3 separate regions of the Homo sapiens genome follow, and all the other regions are linked to region 3. Evidence: fine-mapped expression QTL. A gene starts in region 3. Each other region holds a variant in brackets. All regions are shown on one strand. Distances are from middle to middle. Region 1 overlaps LCLAT1 (lysocardiolipin acyltransferase 1). Region 2 has its middle 160 kb from the start of CAPN13. Region 3 holds the start of LCLAT1 (lysocardiolipin acyltransferase 1).

Evidence for each region. PIP is the estimated chance that this variant, and not a neighbour inherited with it, causes the effect.
Region 1: its variant is the best candidate, but not a certain one, in a credible set for the expression of LCLAT1 in whole blood (TOPMed, PIP 0.87).
Region 2: its variant is the best candidate, but not a certain one, in a credible set for the expression of LCLAT1 in lung (TOPMed, PIP 0.65).

What each region holds. Positions count from the first base shown.
Region 1 is chr2:30,546,667-30,554,649 of GRCh38, forward strand. All of the region lies in intron 3 of LCLAT1 (lysocardiolipin acyltransferase 1), which reads left to right. Among named protein-coding and RNA genes, the nearest start is that of LCLAT1, 100 kb to the left of the region's middle. The variant A/G (reference allele first, on the strand shown) is at 3,359.
Region 2 is chr2:30,647,306-30,655,288 of GRCh38, forward strand. No RefSeq gene overlaps it. Among named protein-coding and RNA genes, the nearest start is that of CAPN13, 160 kb to the right of the region's middle. RefSeq lists enhancers at 4,770-5,501, 5,502-6,232. The variant T/C (reference allele first, on the strand shown) is at 2,940.
Region 3 is chr2:30,443,873-30,451,855 of GRCh38, forward strand. LCLAT1 (lysocardiolipin acyltransferase 1) reads left to right here and starts at 3,374. Exons shown (of 6, transcript NM_001002257.3): 1 at 3,374-3,511. RefSeq lists enhancers at 3,064-3,801, 3,105-3,174, 3,215-3,274, 3,485-3,604, 3,802-4,538.

The DNA of each region.
Region 1 (7,983 bases), 100 kb after region 3:
CTATCACATGTTAGCCACAAAGAATAGATGTCTGTTTGACATATTTAAAATCTATAATGCCTAACTTTACCTCCTGTGAGAAGGAAAACTCCCCCTTTCTTACCCAGCTTCCTCCTACTTAAAACAGACATTCACTAAAATTAGAACAAAGTCATGAATATTTTTGACTCTATCCAGTTTGGTGGGTTCTTTTTTTAATTCAACACAATTTCATGCTGCCCTCCTGCTCATAACAAGAATAAGATGAATGGATTCATCTTATTGATGAATGTATTAAGATGAATAGATTCATCTTATTGGCGATTTTGTGCCAGGAAACTCACATGCTAGTTGTCCCTTCCCAAATTAAGCCCCCACAGGACTCAGTAACACTCCACTCCTGCCAGTTCCTTTAGTGCAATCATAGGCATTAGTTTTGCTACCTACAGTAGGTAAAGGTGCCTTATTACCCAAAAGTAACAACAGCTTGAGCCTTCCTGGAATGAATCTCTGCAGCTAGTGTGTTTGAAGCTCCACCTGTGACTCTTTCTTCAAAGGGGGCTTCTAGTCAAGGATTCCTAGCTACTTATTAACTATGCTATAGCTATTACTGTCACAGCAAACTTTCTGATGTCCTGGCCTTCTTTATTATATTGATAAGATTATGGTATCCTATTAAATAATCATATAAAGCTTCACAACAGCCTTCTTCCTCTGTGTTATTCCACATATTACTTAATAACTAAAGGTCAGAAGTAGTATTTTACTAATCTTAACAGTGAACCACTGTGATGCACACATCCTATGACAGAGAATGAAAATACCAGATACTGGCTTTCTCAGCCTCCTGTCAGCAGGGATGGTTGTTTGAGCCAGTCTAACCAAAGGGTCTTATGGGAGTCTGTTGGAGTCTCTGGGAAAGATACTCCTCCTTAATAAGATGAAAGAAGTCAATGAAGGTCCAGTGCCACTCTTTTCTGCTTGTGGACAGTATTGTGTTAGCACATGAGGCTTGGAACTTTTGCAGGCATTCCCTCAAAGAGGGGGAGGTCCTCAGACATCAGGAGGATGGCATAGTAGAGTGGGAGATCCTGGCTCCTGAACTAGCGTTGGGGCCAGACTTTATTTTACGTGAGAAGCGTAAACCCAAATTGTTTATATGACTTTTAGATTGGTATTCTGTTATTTATAGCCAAAAGCATCCTGATGTAACTTGCTTTCCCCTATTTCACCAAGCCATAAGAAATGTATCCATTGTTTGATTTACTCGTTCAGTAAATTTTATTAATGCTAGTCATGAATGAAAATTTTTATGAAAACCATCAAATAAAGTAGAATATGTTAAACATATTTTAGTTCTGTTGCCTGGAAGACACACATACATCTCTGCTTGTTTTTAGATATATAACAGATTATTTCATTTTAGCAATTCTATTGGTATTTGAAACATAAAGTTTTGGTAATTGTTGATTTTGTAGTTTTGGTTGCCAGCATTGCTTGGCCGAGATGAGTTTTGATGCATGGCCGGGAGGGTGGTAAGTAGTGGGGATATACGTTTGTTGACGAAAAGAATCGAACTCTGTAAAATATTTGAAGAGATTTATTCTGAGCCAAATGTGATTGACCATGGCCTGTAACACAGCCCTCAAGAAGTCCTGAGAACATGTGCCCAAAGTGGTCGGGGTACAGCTTGGGTTTATATATTTTAGGGAGCCACGGGACATCAATCAAATACATTTAAGAAATACATTGGTTTGGTTCAGAAAGGTGGGACAACTTAAAGCAGGGGCTTCCAGGCTATAGGTAAATTTAAACATTTACTGGTTTACAATTGGCCGAGTTTATGTGAAGACCTGGGATTAATGGAAAGGATTGTTTAGGTTAAGGTAAAGGATTGCGGAGACCAGGTTTTTTTGTGCAGAGGAATCTCTCAGATAGCAAACTTCAGAGAGAGAGCAGGTTGTAAAATGTTTCTTATCAGATTTAAAAGGGTGTCTGGCTCTTAGCTGATTATCTCCTAGATCTGGAAAGAAAGGAAGGAAAATAAAGGGATAAGGGGATTATCTATATAATGTGGATTTTTCCCACAAAAAACTTTACAAGGCAATTTCAAAGTATGGCAAGGTAATATATTTTGGGGTAAAACATTTTGATTTTTTCCCTTGTTATGCCTGAGTAAGACTGGAAAGTAAGTCACAATATACAGGGTTAAACAAAGCTCATGTGATGAGAATTTATGGTTTGTAGGGCATGACTCCCTAGATCCCTTAGAAAGGAATTTGGGCAAGATAAAAAATTAGAGCTTAGCCTTTACTTTCTTCCATTGGGAAGAAAAGAAAGGTTCAATTCATTTAAATCATCTGCCAGGCAGTTTTACCAGGATTACCTTTCTTTCTAGAATGACATTGAGAACTAAGTAATTTTTTAGGATGGCATTGAAATCTAAATAACTTAAATGAAGCTTTTGTTTTGAATGTGTTATCTGACTTCTGAACAGAGCTGAAGCCCTGAGCTGTGTGAAGTTGACAGTTTCTTTGGCCAGGAGAAATGGCTGGGGGCTTTAAGGTTATCTAATCAATCACTTACTGACATTAATGCAATTGGTTACCTAAATTGGATATCCTGTTGATGTGTACTATTTCTAATACCTCAGCAAATTTACATTGCGTTAGGCTGCTAGATATCCCAGATGTGAGCTAGGAAGCGAATTTCACCTCTAGTACTTTTAGTACCCTTAGGTCTGCTGAAAATTGAGGAATTCCTTTGCTTAAATTAATAATTACATTCTAAAATTATCTAAAAGATATGCTTTTATAATGGTAACTTCAGTAGAAAGAAATTCAGAATTTGGAGGGAGCTTTAGGGTTTTGAATCTGCTTTGTATTTGGTGGAAAAGCACAAATGAAATAAATCACATAATAATCAGTTTTGAACCAACTTTGAAATGGCACTTTGCAATAATAATAGAAAAGATATGCAAGATGAACCCTCTGTATCTCATAGTTGGTAACTTTAATAGATAATTTGACTTCCATGCCTTCAGTTGTTCTTTGTCTTGGGGCTAAGTATCTGTAAATTGTGCAGGTATTTTAAAAGAGAAAGGCAACATTGTAAGACCTGGGGGAAAATGAATTAGCTGTTGTATTTATTATATATGTCATTTAAAAAATATGGCTTTTCTCCATTTATTTCATATAACAAATCTTACAGAAAATATTTTCCTTATGCTTGAAGTCAGATGTTTCTGAGTGTTACACTGTTGTGTAATGAATACCAGGCAGGGACATATTATGTAGCCAAGAATTAAAAATGTTCTTCCACAATGAAAATAATGTCAAAACTATATCTTTAGAAATGCTGTTACTGATAATCTTCAATT[A/G]TTACAACCAAGTAATATGGTATAGTAAGCGAATTCCAAGTAAGATTATTTAGGCCTTGATTTTGAATGGAAAATGGCCATTATTTGTGTATTTTTTTAGTCAAACACAAGTTTGCATCAACAAATAGATGTTCTGAAGTAAACTTTTTATATGGAATCATTTTAGATTTATTGAAAATTTGTAATAACAGTACAGAGAATTTTCCTATCTTTTTCACCCAGCTTCTCTGATGTTAACATCTTATATGGTATATCTGTTGAAACAAGAGGTTAATTTTGGTGCAATACTATTAACAATGGACTTTATTCAGACTTCACCAATTTTTCCACTAATGTCCTTTTGTGGTTCTAGGATCCAACTGAGAATACCACCTTGCTTTTTAGTCATTGTATCTTCCTAGTCTTCCTTCATTTTGTGATAGTCTTTTCTTGCTTTTCATGGTGCCTTTGAAAAGTACTGGTTGGACATTTTGTAGAATGTTCCTCAGTTTGGGTTTGTCTGATGTTTTCTTGTGATTAGACTAGAGCTGTAGGCTTGGGGGAAGAATACTGTAGAGGTGGAGTACCCTTCTCATGTCAGAGGTTCATGATATCAACATGGCTTATCACTGGTGATGTTAATCTTAATCACTTAGTTAAGGTGGTATCTGTCAGGTTTCTTTACTGCAAAGATGCTGTTTTCCCCTTTACATTTACATACTCAATCCACTAAGCACAGCCCACACTCAAAGGCTGGCTGTTGGGGGAAAGGAATGAAGCTCTACTTCCTGGAGTGCAGACTATTTATATATATTATTCATACTTCTGTGGAAAATATTTGCCCCTACTCCCCATTTATTTAATTAGTAATTTAATAATATCAATATGGACTCATTGATATTTATTTTAATTTTTAGATTATAATCTGGTACTATCATTATTTTGCTGCTGAAAGTAATGGCCAGCTTTGGCCATTGGGAGTTTTCTTTTCTTGAGACAGGGTCTTGCTCTGTCATCCAGGTTGGTGTGCGGTGGTGCGTTCACAGCTCACTGCATCCTTGACCTCCTGGGCTCAAGCAATCCTTCCGCCTCAGCCTCCTTAATAGCTGGGACTATAGGTACATGCCACCTTGCCTGGCTAATTTAAAATAAATTTTAAAAGACAACAACTTTTTTTTTTGTAGAGAAGTGGTGGGTATCGCTACATTGCCCAGGTTGGTCTTGAACTCCTGGGCTCACGCCAACCTCCTGCCTTGGCTTCCCAAAGTGCTGAGATTATAGGCATGAGCCACTGCGCCTAGCCTGGGAGTGCCTGAAGGTTGGCTCTTATGTCCTTTTGACATACTACCATCTTTTTTCTTTTAACCACTTATTTTTTTGGCACTTTAAATTCTCCAGGTTCATCTTGTATTTTTCCTTGCCCCATCCCTAGACTCAGCATTTCGCTAAGGAGCCCTAGATCCCTTTTTTTTATGAAGAATGATGTGAGAAACTAAAATCTAGGCACTTACTATGCTCTGTATGAGTTTTCCATTGCAGCTTATACTACAAATATAGAGTGGTTTAAAGGACACAAATTTATTATATAACAGTTTTAGAGGTTTGATGTGGGTTCTACTGGGCTGAAATCAAGGCATTGGCAGGACTGGTTTCTTTCTGTAGGATTGCTACGGGATCTGTTTCCTAGCCTTTTCTAGCTTCTAATGGATGCCTACATTCCTTGGCTTGTGGCCCCTTCTTCTGGCTTCAAAGCCAGCATTGGCTGGTTGAGTCCTTCTCACATCAGTACTAAGTCATCTTGTGCCTCCCTCTTCCACTTAAAAAAAATTTATTTTTAATTTTCATAGGTACATAGTAGGTATATATTTATGGGGTTTCTCTCCCACCTTTAATGACACTTATGATTACATTGGGCCCACTAGAATAATCTAGGCTAATCTCACTACCTTAAATTCGTCTGATTAGCAATCTTAATTCCCCTTTGCTGTATAACACAGTGCCTTCACAGTTCCAGGAATTAAGATGTGGACATCTTTTGGGGGATGATTATTCTGCCTACCATATGTTAATTGCTACTGGGATGTCTTTGATTATAGGTCCTCTCAGTGTGCAAAGCTAGGAATGTACTTAGGAATCAGTTTTGCAACAGGAAGAAATATCTCAGATAATAGCTCATTTAGAAAATTGGTCAAATTTCCAATCTCATATAATATGAAAGATGAGTTTGGTCTCTCTCATGTTAACATGAACCCCAAAATTGTAACATGACCAAGAAGCCTCATTGTCAAGCAAGAATTTTTACTGTCTGCATGTGTATATGATTATGTTTGTGGAGTCTAGTGAAATTTGTAGTACAAGTGGTTTCTCCATTTTTCTCCACTTTTTGGTGTGTCAAGTTTGAAATTATATTTAGAATTAAGTTTGTTAGAGTATTATGTAATTATTACTTGCTCATATTTTATACTTTGATTTCTATCTTGTATTTTCAGCACAGTCACATTTGAAACCTAATGATACAGGCATACTACAACAGGATTGTTGCTGCAAAAATGTCATAAAATTACCTGTCATCAGAGTTTTTAAAAGCCTTCGTGGAAATTAATCATCTTAGAAGAGGGATGTGGAGAGCATTACCCAGTTTGTAATGTGAGTTCAGAAAAGATAGATCTTCCTTAACTTTATCTATCCAGCATTTAGCACCCTAATAAAAGTTGAAATTCTGAAAAGTATAACTACTTGTTACTTAACTCCCTGATTTATTTGTATAACTACTATTAATTATGGACAGATCCATACTCAGTAAATACAGTATTTTCTTATGATCTTTGTGATAAAAGTTTATATAAAATTTGCATCTGTTCCTATTGTTCATTCTCATTTAATAGAGGCCTATGGGTAGCATTTCTGTGGTTGCATCCACATCGTTTATTCAGGATTGAAAATAATGTCGAAGGAGCAGTTGTCTGTCTTTCTTCCGCCCTGCTTTTTCTTCTGGTGTCATATTCATAGTGCCATAGTAGATGCCATATTGAGTTACTACAAGGACAGCAGTGATAAATTTTACCCTATTGTTGAGATTGAGTTATTAGAGCATTAGGTGAGTAGTGCTGATGTTTTCATTACTCAGTTAACTATATTCATCTACACTGAAATGAAAAAAAAAAGTTGTGAAAAGGCTTACTTTTTATTAAGAATGCATAATGCCAAAATACACATTCAAGTAAATGGTTATTTTTTTCTCCCCCTAGGCAACGCTAAAACTTGGTAAAAGGGAATGTAAGTCAAAACTAGGTTCTAAAATGATGAGATAGGTTTGGACAATAGAGTATGCCGAGGGATTATTTACAACTGCTTTGAGAAGGCGATGCTGATAACGTAAATGAGGTTTTAGAAAGAAGATGGTGGTAGTGGAGCTATGCCAGTATATATAGATTCTATCTTTATAAACCTGCCAGACTCCCAGCCCTCGTCTGAGAAATTCAGGTTAAAGACAGAATATCCTGCAGTGGAAAAGTATGAAAAAGACAAATTGCCGGGCGCGGTGGCTCACGCCTGTAATCCCAGCACTTTGGGAGGCCGAGGCGGGTGGATCATGAGGTCAGGAGATCGAGACCATCCTGGCTAACAAGGTGAAACCCCGTCTCTACTAAAAATACAAAAAATTAGCCGGGCGCGGTGGTGGGCGCCTGTAGTCCCAGCTACTCGGGAGGCTGAGGCAGGAGAATGGCGTGAACCCGGGAAGCGGAGCTTGCAGTGAGCCGAGATTGCGCCACTGCAGTCCGCAGTCCGGCCTGGGCGACAGAGCGAGACTCCGTCTCAAAAAAAAAAAAGACAAATTATATATGCTGATTTTAAAGATACAGGTTGCGCTATCATTAGCTCATAGAAATATGAAATAAATGTCATAAAAATGTGTTTTTTGAGGATCTTAACATTAAGAAAAATCTGAGTAACACTTTAAACATGGATACAATTTGCATTGATGACAATCAAATGGAAAAAAACCCAAACCCCTTGCCAGGTATTCCTGTGATTTTTTTATCGGGAAAAAAAGAGAAAAACATTTAAGCTAAAAGAAGTAAAAAAGATTTAGAAACATTGGCTTGGAGTTTCTAGAAGATATGTAACAAAATATTAGAAAAGTTTTATAGCAAAACCTCATGGATATTGCTACCACTTCCATCCCACATGGGGAGCAAGAGGTATTCTCACTTGCAATGCAGAAATACATTCGACCTGTCAGTATTGTTCAGTCTAGAACATCCTTTACAAATATGAGACTCTGCAGGATTAGTAAACATTTAAGGAAAATGTTAAACAGTATCTAGTACTAAAAAATGGAAAATCTAATCTCTGACAAATAAATAATTCTCTAAGGAGAATATAAACTATGTGTAATTAATACCTGTGGAAAGATTCAAGTATCTATGCAGAGAGGTTGTTTAGTACCGTGATTTAAAAATATCAAGTCTGGTGTCAGACTGCCTGTGTTTAAAATCTGGTTTTACCACTTACCATGTCTTTAGCCCTCATGTCTCTCAGTTTCCTCATCCATAAAATAGGGATAATAATTTTACTTAATTCATAAGGTTGTCTTGAGAATTAATTGAATTAATGAAAAATGCTTGGAACAATATTGGACATAT
Region 2 (7,983 bases), 200 kb after region 3:
AAGAATACTGGAAACTACCTAAATGTCTGTGGTGGGGAACTGATTGAATAGTCCATGGTATAATTATACTGGTTACTGTCTTAGCTGTTCCCATGTTCTTAGCAGCATTGTTCACAAGCGCCAAAAGGAGTAAGCAACACAAATATCCATTGGTCGATGAATGGATAAACACAATGTGGTGTGTAGAGACACATACACACAGACACTGGAATATTAACCCTTAAAAAGAGGGAACTGTTATTTGCGATGGGGATGAATCTGGAGGATATTATACTAAGTGAAATCAGTCACCAAAAACACAAGACAATACCTACTTTGGGGTATATTTGTGAAGAATGAAAATGGAAGCTCATCTACCTAATAGTCTGGTAAGTGCTACATAAGCTTAAGGGTTTTACTACTTACGGTAAGTAGTTTTGAGTCTACTTCTGAAGCAACTGGTATAGGACTCCACCTAGTCAATGCAGGCAGCAGGTCGGCCGGTCCTGGGCAGTTGTGGTGCCGGCTGAGAGGCCAGTGTATGGGGAAGACCATCTCGCCATAGCCGTCTGCCTGTGGGAGCTTGTGAGGACTCAGGAACCTTCTGGGAGGGATGCGGGAGGGGGATTGCCACCCCTTTTCCTATCCTGGGACTTCCAGCCAAAGTGCGAGTCCCTTAGCAGAGCCAGGAAGAGTCCCAGATAAACATTCATCAAATCCGGCCAGCTCTTCTGCCACCAATAGGGTCTCCCCAAAGACCTCCCTCTGCAAACTGTCCCCAAAAGCCCCCTTGACATGACCTCTCAAGCATCCCCACTTGTGGGGAGTGAGCAGGGCACAGACAGGGCTCTCCCCAGCCTGGCTCCAGGCTTTGCTTCCTCCCTCCCAGGCCAGGACGCTTAAACCAGGTGCATTAGAATCACCTGCAGAACTTTAATACCTGCATCCAGGCCCCACCCTCAGGACCCTGACTTCATTGCTCAGGTGTGCAGCCTGAACCTCCAGAGCCATAAAAGCTCCCAGGTGATACTCATGAGCAGCCAGGGTGCTTGCTCTTCTAAGACCTCAGACTTAGGGCTTCCACTCTCTAGGCCTCTGGTCCCTCATTTGTAAAATGAGCATTTGGTCGTAAGTGTTCTGGAAGCCCGAGGTAATTTATAAGTTGATTGCATTCAGTAAATATTAACTACTGGATGTGGGGCCCTGGCTTAGGACTGGGGAAGATGCAAACATAAATAAGCTTTATTTGGCTGGGCGCAGTGGCTCATGCCTGTAATCCCAGCACTCTGGGATGCCGAGGCGGGTAGATCACTTGAGGTCAGGAGTTCGAGGCCAACATGGCGAAACCCCGTCTCTACTAAAAATACAAAAATTAGCCGGCATGGGGGCACGTGCCTGTAGTCTCAACTACTCGGGAGGCTGAGGCAGGAGAATCACTTGAACCCAGGAGGCAGAGGTTGCAGTGAGCCAAGATCACACCACTGCACCCCAGCCTGGGTGAAAGAGAAAGACTCTATCTCAAAAAATAAATAAGCTTTATTCTTTGCCCTATGCACACGTGTGTATATGTGCACACACACTCTTTTCCTTCTGAAAAAAAAAAAAAAAAACCACCACTGTTTATGAAGCATTAGCTTCCAGAATGTGAAGCCAACCAGACAGAACTGAAGAGGGCAAATAAACAAGAGAGGGCATCCTGTGCCAAGGCATAGCCTTGTATCTGGTACAAAAATTTGGGTGCAGGCAGGCCTGAAGGCTTCCCAGACATACCTGGTGAGCACAGGGCACTGACCCTGTTACCACCTTGTCCATTGCCCAGGGGCTAAGTAGGTGTTGTGGACAGTAGCTGACAGTGCAATCTCCAGAAACCATTATGAAATGACAAATGACCACAGCCTGCTCCCTGTTACCATTTATATCCACCTTGCTGACAATGGGAATTTTCTATCCCATGGGCTGGCTGGAGAAAGGGCCCTTCTCTTCAACTCTTCGTGCTGTAAGATTGAAACTCCATCTAAGAAATAACCCCTTATGCCCAGCACCTGCCAGGGAAGGGAGCAGCAGACTTGGTTCCCCAGGGCTGGTTCCTTTGGTGGCAGGGAGTGGGCCTAGGAAGGGGGTGGACTGCTCAGGGGGTGCGAGTGCACAGTGACAAATGTGAGGCTGCGCCTGCAGCCAGGCAACAGCAGGCATGGGCTTTGAGGAAGCATGAGATCATTCCGAGGAGGAGAAGGGTGCACAGAGCCAAGAAGATGTCCCCAGCCTGCCTCCTCTGGTGGAGATAACTTCACTCATCCTGAGGCTATGATGGCTGGAGAGCCAGCTGCCTTGAGGAGCCAGCCGGGGATTCTGCTCAGGAGAGCCACTGAGGATAAGTCAGCCATGGGTCCTTCTAGGGAAGTTGTGGGGGAAACAGTGGCTGGAGACAGGGTCAGCTTCATGGGTGTGCAACTGGTGCATCTGCATAGGGCCCTGCCCTCAAAAGGGGCCCATACTCTGCTGTCGCTGTCTTGAAGTTCTTAATAGTTTTTGAACAAAGGACCTCCCATTTTCTTTTTGCAGCAAGCCTTGCAAATTATGCAGCTGGTCCTTGCTGGTGGCTATAGTAGGCTGAGGAAAGTCTGATTTAGAATCATGGTCCTCAGCCCTGGCTGCTCATGGAAATCACCCAGGACACTTCAAAACTACAGGCAGCCGGCCTTCTCACCCAACCCCAGAATGAAGACAGGCACCCTCCCTGGTGATTCTCACGCACAGCCAGGCTGGAGAAAGTGGATTTCGAGGAATGATGCTCCCTTGCTCGTGGCCTGTAAGAAGCCCTGGCTGAGCTGTGGCACCCGCTCCTGAAGAGGCCTCACTATGCAGTCTGGCATCATGGAGCCCACTATGCTGTCCTAAAGGCCTCTCCCCTGTCTCCTGGAGACCACACAGACCTGAAGGTTGGGACTAGATCTTATTCA[T/C]ATTTGCACCAGTCACACAGCTGGTGCTCAAGAAACTTATTTTCCCTCTAACTTGTTTGAACTAAACAACAACATGACCTCCGCATTTTTATCATTGCCTCCTTAAATTGTGGGGCTAAAACACCCCATGACTCACTAGCACAAACTGCTCCTACTAGCCAGAGGAGTGTGGATGCTAAAGAAGGACTTCTCATCTCTGGCTGATATTCCTCTGCTACTCCTGAGCTCCAGCTACTACTTGAGAATTGCACTTCCACTACAGCTCCTTCAAAGGCTAATTGCCTTATCAGATATTTCAGTTGTCCTGTTGTTTCTCAGAAACTTTTAAAATAGTTTAATTTTGAAATATCTATTGTTTTCACGTGTGTGAAGTGCACTGTGTTTTGCCCGTGCATTCTGCTAAGTCCTTCTGTGTTTATTTTTGCAGAAGGCATTAGAGATGAGGAGCCTGCTGTTCTCGTGCAGCACATAACCCAGGTGGAAACAGATTACATTAGGGCCATGACAGGTGGTGGTAGGTCAAGGGGTGATGGAGACTTTCCGAGATTCCAGCAGTGCCAAAGGATTTGAAGGTAGTAGAGGGTAGGTCCTGTTTTATTATAAGTTGTTATGTCCCATTTGGTTAGAATACTCTAGAAAAGCAGAAAACCATTTCTAGAATATTCTAGAAAAACGTTTGAGTCCTGAGACCTCTTTACACACTTACAAATTATTGAGGCCTCTAAAGAACTTTATGTGGATTATATCCATCAATATTTACTGTAACAAATATTCATATTTGTATATTATGTATATTTATATTTGACTATGTTTATAGTCATAATATTCATGTATATTTATATATCTATGTTTATGAATATATGTGTATATATTTAAAATAAATGTATTATATGTTAAAGTAAATGATTAATTTTTATCAAAAATAACTATTTTCCAAAACAAAAATTTAGTGAGAAGTATGGCATTGTTTTACATTTTGCCCATCTCTTCAATGTCTGGGTTACTAGAGGCTGAATTCTCATACCTGTTCCACAGTCAACCTGCTGAATATCGCATGTCATGTAGCCTCTGGACAACTCCACTGTACACTTTTGAGAAAATGAGAGTAAAAAAGGCAAATAACATCTTAGTATTTCCCCAAACACTACCCAATCAGAGAGCAGAGAATACCGTTTTGACCTGATGGACCCCCTGAAAAGGTCTTGGGGTGTCCCCGGTGTAAGAACCACTTTCTGGATGTCTGTGTCTGGCATGTGATTTGGCAGCCGGGGCTCTGAAAGACAGGGAGGAGTCGGGGAGAGCCAGGCCTGGTGATCAGGAGACAGGGCTGTGGACCCAGCTCCCTCAACTCCACAGCTGTAACACGGAGCACGTCCCTTCCCATCTCTGATCTCTCTGCATCTTAGTTTCCTCATCTGTAAATTGATGACACTGAGCTACACCAAAGGATTTCACCCAAGCTAAATAACAGAACCACCTGGAGAGCTGTGGGAATGTCCAAAAGCCAGGCCTCGCTCCAGAACGATGGTATCAGGATATCGGAATGTGAAGCTGGGTGTATCTGAAAAACTCCTCATGTGGCACATCGAAAGGTCACAGGTGCCAACCTAAAGGCGTCCCCAGACATCAAAGCTGGAACAATTTGAGCAACAAAATAATGATAGAACGGATAACCCACAGGGTACAGGAAATATTCATAAGTTCATAGTAACAAAAAATTAAATATATAGTAAATGGGGAGAAGGAGACACTCTTCCTTACAGTAGCATTCCAATTAATAAATGTTGAAAAATGATGGAGATAGCAAGCCACCATTTGGCAAACACCACAGTAATAATTGTTGCAGACACAAATCATTGATGGATACTGAATTGAGTAAAAATATATGAGAAACGTGATACGTGCATAGCCTTGCAGTATCTCCCCAGGAGCTAGCATTAATTACAAAGGGAAAAATAAAACTTTACAGAGAAGAAGTCTAGCAAACACCATCTTAAGTGATCAAGGCCAACACCACCAGGCCTAAGAGATATTGATGTCAGGTACTCCCTGAGAAAGACACAACATTATTCTTGCAAAAAATACGTAATCTGATCCTGAGAAAACCTCAGACCACCTAAAGTGAGAGACATTTACAAATCAGCAGGCCAGCCCTCTTTGAAAGTGTCAAGGTCAAGAAAGACAAAGGCTGAGGAATTGTTGTCGATGGGGGAGACTAAAGAGACATGACAACTACCTGGAATGTGGGATCCTGAACTGGATCCTGGCGAAATGTGAATATGTTCTGTCGATAAGTTAATCATATTGTGTCAGCGTTAATTTCTCGGGCTTGGTAACTGTACTCTGGCTATGTAAGATGGCAGCATTTAGGGGAGCTGAGTGAAGTGTACACTCCTGCCTCAAGATTCTTTGCTCTGTGGTTCCTTCTGCTGGGGGCACTCTTTTCCCAGATATTCATGCGGTTTGTTTATTCATTCTCTTCCTGTCTTTACTCAGATATGCTGAGGCATGAGATGCCATCAATTTTTCCACCAAGGGAGAATGTCATTAAACCAAGCTCTGTGCTCCCCATTCACTTTTCAGAAGCATCCCACAAACTTCCCATTGAGAAGGAGAAGGAAAATATCAAGCAGGGGAGGGGCCGGGCTAGTGCTTCATGGTTCTTGGCCAGATGAAAAGAAGGTCAGGGGATATAAGCCATGAGAGGGGCTTGCAAATATCCAAATGGGGGTGGTGGTAGGCAGACAAAACGCAGCTTCTATCCACCATACCTCTGGCCCAGGGCCCAGGGCCAGAGTCACGCCTGGTCAGGGATGGCCAATAGCACCCTTCACCCTCAGCTCACCACTGGGAACCAGATGTTTCCAGGCTCTCCCTGATCAGAGGACAGGGCACACAGACCAATTTGTACCCCAAATTGTCCTGTTTGGGATGCACATCTGCTGTAATGATGGGAGGAGGTCAGACCCTGCCAAAGAATTTTACAGAAAACTAATGAAAATCGGCTGGGCATGGTGGTCCATGCCTGTAATCCCAGTACTTTGGGACGCCCAGGCAGGTGGATGGCTTGGGCCCAGGAGTTCGAGACCATTCTGGGCAATATAGCAAGACCCTGTCTCTTAAAAAAAAAAAAAAATCCATTATCCTTTTCCACCCATTCTTTGATTCAAATCTCATGGCATTCAGTGATGGAGAAAAGCTGGGCCAAGCATATTATGTCCCTTTCTCAGATGTGGAACTTAAGACTTGGTTAAGTTTTTTCCTAAAATCACATAGGTAGGACGCAATCCCAAGTCAGCTTTTCTGGGGAGCAGCTAAGTCTCTGTACTGTTGCATTTTATCCAAGACCAGTCATTGTGGCCCATGAGGCAGTGTTTGGGGTTCACTGACACTATACTTGGGCTATGGAGATGTGTGTTTGAATCTAGCTCAGCCACTTAGGAGCTGTGTAATCTTGGGCACGGCCCTTAATGTTTTCGGGGTTCATGTTGCCATGATATGGATAACGTATGAGAAAGCGACTTATAAACTGCACAGTATCATGCTTGTTACCTATTAGCATTTGTATAAGGGCAGCAATAAGGGTCACTATTCCACAGCTTGCTATGATGATCAAATGACCACAGTGCAAATAATAGCTGCATATATGGAGTCTTGCTCTACACCAGGCACTGTGCTTTGTACACATGTGAATCATCTTTTTGAGTCCTCCTTATAACTCTATGAGATAGTGTTTGAGTTTTTCTATTGCTGTGTAGGAAACCTCCAAAGCCCTAGTGACTTCATAACAAGAATCACTCATTATCTCACAGCTCTGTGGGTTGCCAAGGCATTTCTTCTGCCTCCTGTGGTGCTGGGTGAGCTCTGCTGTGGCCTCAGTCATGTGGCTGGCAGGCAGTGCTGGCCACTGGTTGGGAGCTCAGTGAGGATCTTGGCCAGGGTCCTTGACTCTCCTCCCCGCAGGCTTTTCCACACACCTGCTTGGGCTTTCTCATGGCGTGGTGGTTGAATTTTCTAAGAAGGAATATTCCAAAGGATGAGCTCCTATGTGCAAATGTTCGCCAAACCTCCGTTTGCATCACTTTTGGCCAAAGCTTGTCCCAGAGCCAGCGTGGTTCACTGGAGCTACCGAAGAACAGCCTTCTGCAGATAGGGACTACTGCTCTCCCCATTTTACAGGTGAGGAAACTGAGGCTTAGAAGGGGTAAGTGACTTGACCAAGGTCACAGAGTTACTAACTGGCAGAGTTCAAGCTGAGATGGAAAGATTTGGCAGATTTGGCTCCAGGGTCCGTGCTCTCACCCCTTCAAGTATGGAGTGGTGAGCTGCAAAGGCAATGCTCTCTGCAAAGCTCCAAAGGTTGCTGCATCCCCTTTCCCAGCCCACCCACCCCAGTAACCCCCCTCCCCACCCTGCCTCCTTGGCCAACTGTGAAGTGCTGCCGCTGAAACGGTCTTTCTCTCCCACCACACAGTGAGCTTAAGTCCCCTCCCCTCTCCTCCTCTTCAGCTTCCTCCCTATTTCTCCTTGCTCCCTAGAGCCATGAGGTTGTCCTCCCTGGGGCTGCCTCAAGATGTTCTCAGAGGCCCCTGGGAGCAGAGGTTCAAGTTCAGCCAAGAACAGCTATGGGGCAACCAGGGCATTCTGAGACTGGACTTTATCCCATGTGGGGTCTCAGCCTTTTGGGTCCCAGGTCCTTTCAGTGGCCCAGAGGAATCATGAGGCCACTGACTCCATCTAGGGACCCCTCTGGGCTGCTGTGAGTCCTGGGGCATCCCCTGATTTTGCAGCCTAGGCCCTGTGGCTACAGGGGCAGTGGGGGTACTGCCCTCCAGCAGGACAGCCAGCACCAGACCTGGCTGCACCTCCACCAAACTCCGCGAAAGACCTTGGCCAAGTTGCTTCCCCTGTCTAGAGCTCAAGTGCTCACTGCGTCATGATGGCGGGTGGGCTGGAGAAGCCTCCTAAGAACCTCTTCTAGACGTTGGGAAGATGAAGGAGGGGTTTGGTTAAAGCTAGCAGGAGAATGTGCAAAACTGGGTGG
Region 3 (7,983 bases):
ACACCTGTAATTCCACCAGTTTGGGAAGCTGAGGGGGGTGGATCACCGGAGGTCAGGAGTTCAAGACCAGCCTGACCAACATGGAGATACCCGGTCTCTACTGAAAATACAAAATTAGCCAGGTGTGGTTGGCACATGCATGTAATCCCAGTTGCTCGGGAGGATAAGGCAGGAGAATTGCTTGAACCCGGGAGGCCGAGGTTGTGGTGAGCTAGGATGGTGCCATTGCACTCCAGCCTGGGCAACAACAGCGAAACTCTGTCTCAACAACAACAACAAAAAAGATGGGGGTGGGGAACGGGGAAGGGGAGAGATGGAGCAAAAAGAGAATAATCAGAACTATTAATAATTAGACTCCACAGCTGTTTTGTGCTAATGTAAATTTGTCACTACTTCCAAGCTGTACCTTCTAGCACCAAAACTCCTCAGCTACCAAAGACATGGCTTACTCCATGTCTCAAGAAATTAAAACATTTCATTTCAAATGCCTTTTGAATTTCAGAATCTCGTTGGATGACTGGTGATATTAGGTAATGCTAAGTCTCATTCATAGAAATTTTTGCAAAGAGGGAATTGCAAAAGAAATTTTGCAATTCTTGCTTGCAAGCAATAAACTGTAGGCTATAATAAATGGGCCACTCTGGGCCTCCAGTTAAGTATCTGTGGCCTCTGCTGGCACTGGGCTGCATGTTGCTTGTATTCATTACCTTGGGAGAGACTTGCTCCGATTTTATTGGCGGCAATGTACTTGGCTCTTTTCTGAGGTCTGTTATTGAGCACAGATTTTCCCTTATTACTCTCACATTTTGAAGAGGAGTGAGCAATTACATGGGCATAGAAAGTACCCCAATAATGACAAAAGTACAATAAGAACTAGGACTTGAGATTTCCTGTATGTCATAGTGTGTCCCTGAGCATTACAGAGAGTGCCCTATTAAATGTGACCATTAAGTCAATGGCTCATGAGGTTCAGCAATTCATCAGCTGTGATGCTCTGTTACTGGGGTCAGGAAAGATTGAGAAACTTGTCCCTTTGGGACAGTAGAGCACAGATTAACACCACTTTTTAAGTGTTATATACTACAATGTAATAATAATAGAAATAAAGTGCACAATAAATGTAATGTGGTTGAATCATCCCGAAATCACCCCCTTCACCCTTCACCCCGTTCATGGAAAAACTGTCTTCCACGAAAGCAGTCCCTGGTGCCAAAAAGGTCGGGGACTACTTCTCTGGATGTCTTGATGAAATACATACATTTCAGACGCGGATAAACCCCACAAAAATTCAGGAGCTTGCTACATTGGTGATATTTTAAAATAATTATTTAAAAAACTGGGGGGGTAGTTTTAGACTTAGGAGAGATGTAAAGAGAGTACAGGGATTTTTCCATATATTCTTTACCTAGCTTCCCCTTATGTCAACATCTTGTGTAAGCATAGAACATGTATCAAAACAAAGAATGATCCTGGTACAATAGCATTATGTAAACTATACATCATTTTGGATGCTGAAGTGGTCCAATGATCTTGGGCACGTCAAGACATTTTCCCCAGAATGAAAAACATGTTACTACACCTTGCACCTCTGCCAAAAAGAAAGAAGCATGACACTTAGCAGATCTCTGAGTTTAGAAATCAGCATATTTTGCCCTTGGGAATTCTGTTCCTATCCCTTTAGCAGTTGACGTGGAAGGTGGCTACTGATCAGTAGCTCAGATCAAGAACGGGCTCAGGGCCAGGCGCGGTGGCTCAAGCCTCTAATCCCAGCACTTTGAGAGGCCAAGGTGGGTGGATAGCTTGAGCTCAGGAGTTCGAGACCAGCCTGGCAACATGTTGAAATCCTGTCTCTACAAAAAACACAAAATTAGCTGGGCATGGTGGCAGATGCCTGTAGTTCCAGTTAGTCTGGAGGCTGAGGTGGGAGGATTGCTTGAGTCCAGGAGGCAGGGGTTGTAGTGGGCCACAATCATGCCACTGCACTCCAGCCTAGGTGACAGAGCGAGACCCTGTCTCAAAAAAAAAAAAAAAAAAAAAAAAAGCAAAGAAAAGAAAAAAGAAAGAGCCCAGCACTGTCCTCTGTGGTTAGGGCGGTAAGGGCAACCTTGCCTCTTGGGCTGTATCACCGGACACACCTCACAATGCTAGAGCTCTCTGCAATGGAGCTGCAAAGGCTATGAGGAACCTCCGGCAAGCCCCCAAAGAACCACAGTAGAGCCCTTGAAGGTTCTGGAGCATAGCCAGGCCAACTCTTAACAACAACAAAAAAGAATTGGGAGATCTTTTATTCCAGTAATCTTATTTTAAAGGTAAAAAGGAGGCCTAAAGTCATAGGCATAATTGGCAGAATTGACTTTTGTTCTGGTGTTTCTCTCTGTAGTCATTCTTCACTTTCTGATGCAATTTTAGCACATCTTAAATATTAAAATGTTTTGGAACAAACTTAGAGAAATTATGAAGCTAATTTAGGAAAAGAGCACAAGAATCTTTGATTTACAGGCAATTTGGGGATATAATTTAGCTATATTGAAGCTATGCAGCCAACATGTAGATGGTCATTATTATTACACCATAAATTTTGTGAGGTCAGGAACCTTGTAATTTTAAAAATATTCACTCTGTGCTTTGTTGAATAAACGGATAAAACGTATAGACATACATGAACTACTGATGAGTGGCTGTGTGTGATGTGTAGCTATGTTTATTATTTTTAAGATTCTTATTGTATTTGTTGAAGGCCAAGTTGAGGAGGGAATTGCTTAAGGGAAATGAAAAGGGGTTTAACCACAGTCCCCACCATTCAGGGGCATGCAATCTAGTAGGTTAGGGGACAGGACAGACACACCATGATAGGTGATCGAGACCTTTTAAGAGCAGTGTGATGAAATTGCTATGGGAACTGGGAGGAAACATTTTCTAGGACTGGGGAAACACTGAGTGTGCTAGAAAAACTTTGTGCTCCTGATCAGGGAACCTGGGTTCTATAACTGCTTCTACTACTGATTTGTCCTGTGACTTCGCGCACCAAATTTAGGCTTGTAAATTAAACTCCCAGATTTCTGTTTTCCATTTTGCAGCTCTAGGGGTTGAATGAACCATTAGGTTCCCTCGGACAAATGACCTCCGCTAATTTCCTATTTCGTTGTTTTCTCACCCCTACACCCCACCGTTCCGTGGGTCCCTCCTCTCCAGGAGGCCAGACGAGGAAATAAGCGAGGCCTCTTTAAAGGAGCTCTCAAAGAAAGGTACCCGGGGTATCCCGGGCTGTGGAGCAAGCGCGGGGCGCCGGGGACCCGGGTTTCCCACGCAGCCGGGGACGCCGTTGCGTCACGGCGCCTGCAGCCAATCAGGACGTAGCCTTCCGGGACGCATTACTAGGGCGACGGCCGGACGCCTCCGCGTTACGGGATGAATTAACGGCGGGTTCCGCACGGAGGTTGTGACCCCTACGGAGCCCCAGCTTGCCCACGCACCCCACTCGGCGTCGCGCGGCGTGCCCTGCTTGTCACAGGTGGGAGGCTGGAACTATCAGGTGGGGTTACGGCGCGAGGAAAATGGCGGCGGCCGGGGGATCTCAGAGGTGCAGGAAGGGGAGCTGCAGCCCGGGCTTTTCCTCCTGAGCCATGGACCTTCCCCGGGCCGCGACCTCGGGTAACGGCCACTGGCCTGGCATTTGGGGTCCCGGTGCAGGTGGCGGTAGCGTCGCTGGCTCAGGTGGAAGGAGGCGCGGGGAAGCGACTCCTGGAGGCTGGCTGAGGCGTCAGGTGCTGAGGGGCCGCGCGAGCGGCGAGGGCGAGGTAGCCGCGGGGCGAAGAGGGTCCCGTCGGTGTTTACGCTAGGAGCGTCAAAACCTTCCTCCTGCGACCTCAGCGGGTCTGGGAGCTGCACTGTCCCGGAACGCAACCTGAGGTCTGACCCTGTTAAATCCCATGCACTAAAACGTCTCAAGTGGTCACCACGTGCGGGGCTTCGACGAGAGCCGTGGAGAGCAGGGGCTGGGGTTGTCTTCCCTGCGAGTCCTGCAGGCGCCAAAGGCCTGCCTGTAGGTGCCAGAGTGGCAGTGCCGCGAAAAGAAAGGTAGGCCCTAGCCAGGGCGGATGCCAAACCTGATCTTTAAGGTGTATCGTAGCTTCTAATTGCCCATTTGAAGAAAAGAAGTTGAAAGATAAGGCACTTAGATGTGGTTGTGGAGATGTTTTGCTTTCTTGTACTTCCCTGGTTCAGGTGGCTTCCCTGGAAATACTGCATCTGCCTTTAAAGTTCATTAACTGTGTTTCTTGTGTACATGGCAGTAGATGAGATTAGGGATTGAAGTCACTTTAAGTCCAAGAAAAGTATTGAAGATATGTGTTGAAGGCATTACCAAGATGAAATATTTATTCATATCATTAACTTATTTGTTCAAAGAAACGTCATCTCATGAAGTATAACTACGTGGGTTAGTTTTCAAAAAACTGACTTGATGAAAGCCCTTTTTGTAAAACATATTTTTTGAGAGTAAGTAAAAATACATCATCACTTTTTCGTTTAGGTTTCTGTTGCACATTGTACTTTGATATGCTTGATATGACAGATAAGCATAATGTTAACTGACTTTTGTTTTTGGTAGTAGGCTTGATTTTATGGAGTAGTACCTTGTTCTGTAACTGAGAAAAACGTAATAGCGCTTGTGTTTCAGTCATCAATAGCTGCAATCTCTGGAGTGCCAACTATGTGTCAGTTTCTGTGAAAGCTAGGCTTCTCCTACTTTTTAATTTGAACACATGGTCGTCTGCATCTGCCCCCACCAGGTCTTTAGGCTGGCTGTTGCTGACAACCAGGAGGAAGCAATGGGGAAAACCCAAAAGATTCTTCCAAACTGGATCCATGGAGATTTGGTCAGTTTGTCCTGGGGTTGAGGTTATGGGTGGATTCTAGTCCAAACTCTGCCACTTAAAAATATCTTAGGGTAATCATACAACTTCACTATTGGTGTCTTATCTCTAAAGTGAGTATTTCTTATTCAAACAATCTCATTGCACTGTTGGGAGGAAAAAGAAAAGACAGTATGTGTGAAAGGGCTTTAAAAAGTTAAAAAAACAGTGAAAATATTTGAAATTTATTCCTCTGCATTCATGTACTCTGCCAGGCACTGAATCCGGGGACTTATATGTGCCAACTCAGTCATCTAGCATCACTGTGAGGCGGATACATTTATTATCTTTATTTTGCAGATGAGGAAACTGAAGCACATTGAAGTTTAAGTAATTTGTCCATATCACACAATTAGCATTGTGTTTCCAGCCTGTGTTCTTACTGTCTTACTACCACCATGCCTACTATCTTCCTATGACATACAGATGTGTTATGTATTAAGGGGAAACATTAATTCATGTACAAATTTTTCATTTTTAATATATATATTTTTCTTTTTCAAAGGCTCTAGCAATGTCCTAGAATGAACACATATTTCAAGCCAGTAGTTTTGTTTGTGATCTTGTGTAAATAATAATCATGGTTTATTCCATTGGCGTCCAATAGTGATTTGTGTGGTAACAATTACATTTACTTTGGTTAAGTGGTATATTCTTCTTACTTGTGTTGCCCATTAATTAAAAAGTTATTTTGAAACAGAGTTATGACTAATTTCTTTTTTTTTTTTTTTTGAGAGGGAGGTTCGCTCTTGTTGCCAGGGCTGGAGTGCAATGGCACGATCTCGGCTCACCACAGCCTCTGCCTCCCGGGTTCAAGCGATTCTCCTGCCTCAGCCTCCTGAGTAGCTGGGATTACAGACATGTGCCACTACGCCTGGCTAATTTTGTATTGTTAGTAGAGACGGGGTTTCTCTGTGTTGGTCAGGCTAGTCTTGAGCTCCCGACCTCAGGTGATCCGCCTGCCTCAGCCTCCCAAAGTGTTGGGATTACAGGTGTGAGCCACTGTGCCTGGCTAGTTATGACTAATTTCTATCAGGAAGCACAAATCAATAATTGGGATTTTTGTTTTTATTACATTTTTTAAAAGAATAATTTGCTGGGGGACTTTTAAAAGAAAACTGATTTTAGTTAAGCTTGTTGTTTTGATATACTTGTGCTAATTTTTCCAGTCTTTATTTATTAATAAAATAGGATGAGTAAAAGTGGCTAGGACATTTATTGTTTCATTGAACCTTTATGGAATAGCCCTGCCAAGTCTTTAGGATGTAAACATTAACTCCTGACCCTACCCTTGAGGAGTTCAGGGAGAAGTCCCAGGTCCAGAAGTTTGTAGACAGTTGAGACAAATAAATAAATGATTAACTAATAAAGCATGATAAGGACTCAAATATAATTGTGGGTACAGAGACCTGTGAGAGCACATAAAAGGGAACAGTTACTTCTTCTGGGATGGGCCTGGCCAGAAGAGGAAGGGAGCTAACTGGAGGATAAAGGCGTAGGGAGAAACAGAGCAAAGCTAGGACAAGTGAGAGCTCATGGTGTCCAGGGGTCAGACCACAGTATTACAGGTGTTGCTGGGAGAGAAGCCAGGAAAGGTTAGAGCCAGGTTGTGAACTCTTAGCTAAGAGAGTGGGAACTCTCCTGCGGGCAGTGGGAACTGTAGAAGGATCTCGATTAGATGCATAGCTTCCACTTTATGCTACAAAAATGCTAGGATAATGGGTGTTAGAATTTTTTTCTTTTTACTTTAGGTTTTGAATATATTTGTACAGAAATCATTGTAATATGGAAGTAATCACTGATGGTTTCTCTAGTTTTAAAGCTGATCTCCACTTAAACGTGTGTAACACTAAAGTTGTCCAGCACCTAACAACATAACATGAATGCAGTGCAAATCGACTACAAGGTAGGGTGTGCAAATCTTGCAAAAGATGCAGGATTTCATGAAGTCAAAGCAAGGGGGAGAACTGCTGAAACCATAAGCGCAAATAAAGGACTAGTGCCTGGAATAGGCAGAGATTCTTAAAAAGGACTCAGAAAGCAATGATCATGAAAATGATTGATAAATTTGTCTTCAGACTTCTTTAAAATTGGAAACTTCTCTTCATCTGAAGACACCACTAAGAAAATGAAGAGCAAAATATGGACCGGAAGAAGAAATTTGCAATTTATATATCTGACCAAGGACTCATACCGTGTGTGTGTGTTTATTTGTGTGTGTGTAGCATAAACAAAATTAATGAGAAAAATCATTTTAAAAATGCATAGATGTCTTGAACAGGCACTGTCTATTAGAGGGTCTCAGAATGGCCAGTATGCACATAAAAAGGTACTTAACATTATTTGCCAGTGGGAAATATAAATTAAAACAATAATGAGATACTGCTATACACCTTCCAGAATAACTAAAATTAAAAAGATGGACAGTGCCGGTGTTGACAAGGGTGTAGACCAACTGGATCTCTTACATATTGTTGGTGGGGGCCAGTGTTGGCAAGGGTGTAGACCAACTGGATCTCTTACATATTGTTGGTGGGGATGTCAAATGGTACAGTCACTTTGGAAGACTGTGGCTTTGTCTACTCCTACCCGTGATCAAATGCTTGCATTCCTAGGTATACTCAAGAGAAACTAATGCATGTTAAACTAAAAAACATGTTAAAGAATGTTTATAGTGCCTTTATTCATAATCAAAAATTGGATATAACTCAATTGTACATCAGCAGTAGAATGGATGAGTAAATTGTGATATGTTTATAAGATGAAACACTGCAGAACCTATTGTACATCAGCAGTAGAATGGATGAGTAAATCGTGATATATTTATAAGATGGAACACTGCAGAACCAGTTGTACATCAGCAGTAGAATGGATGAGTAAATTGTGATATATTTATAAGATGAAACACTGCAGAACCAGTTGTACATCAGCAGTAGAATGGATGAGTAAATTGTGATATATTTATAAGATGAAACACTGCAGAACCAGTTGTACATCAGCAGTAGAATGGATGAGTAAATTGTGATATATTTATAAGATGAAACACTGCAGAACCAGTTGTACATCAGCA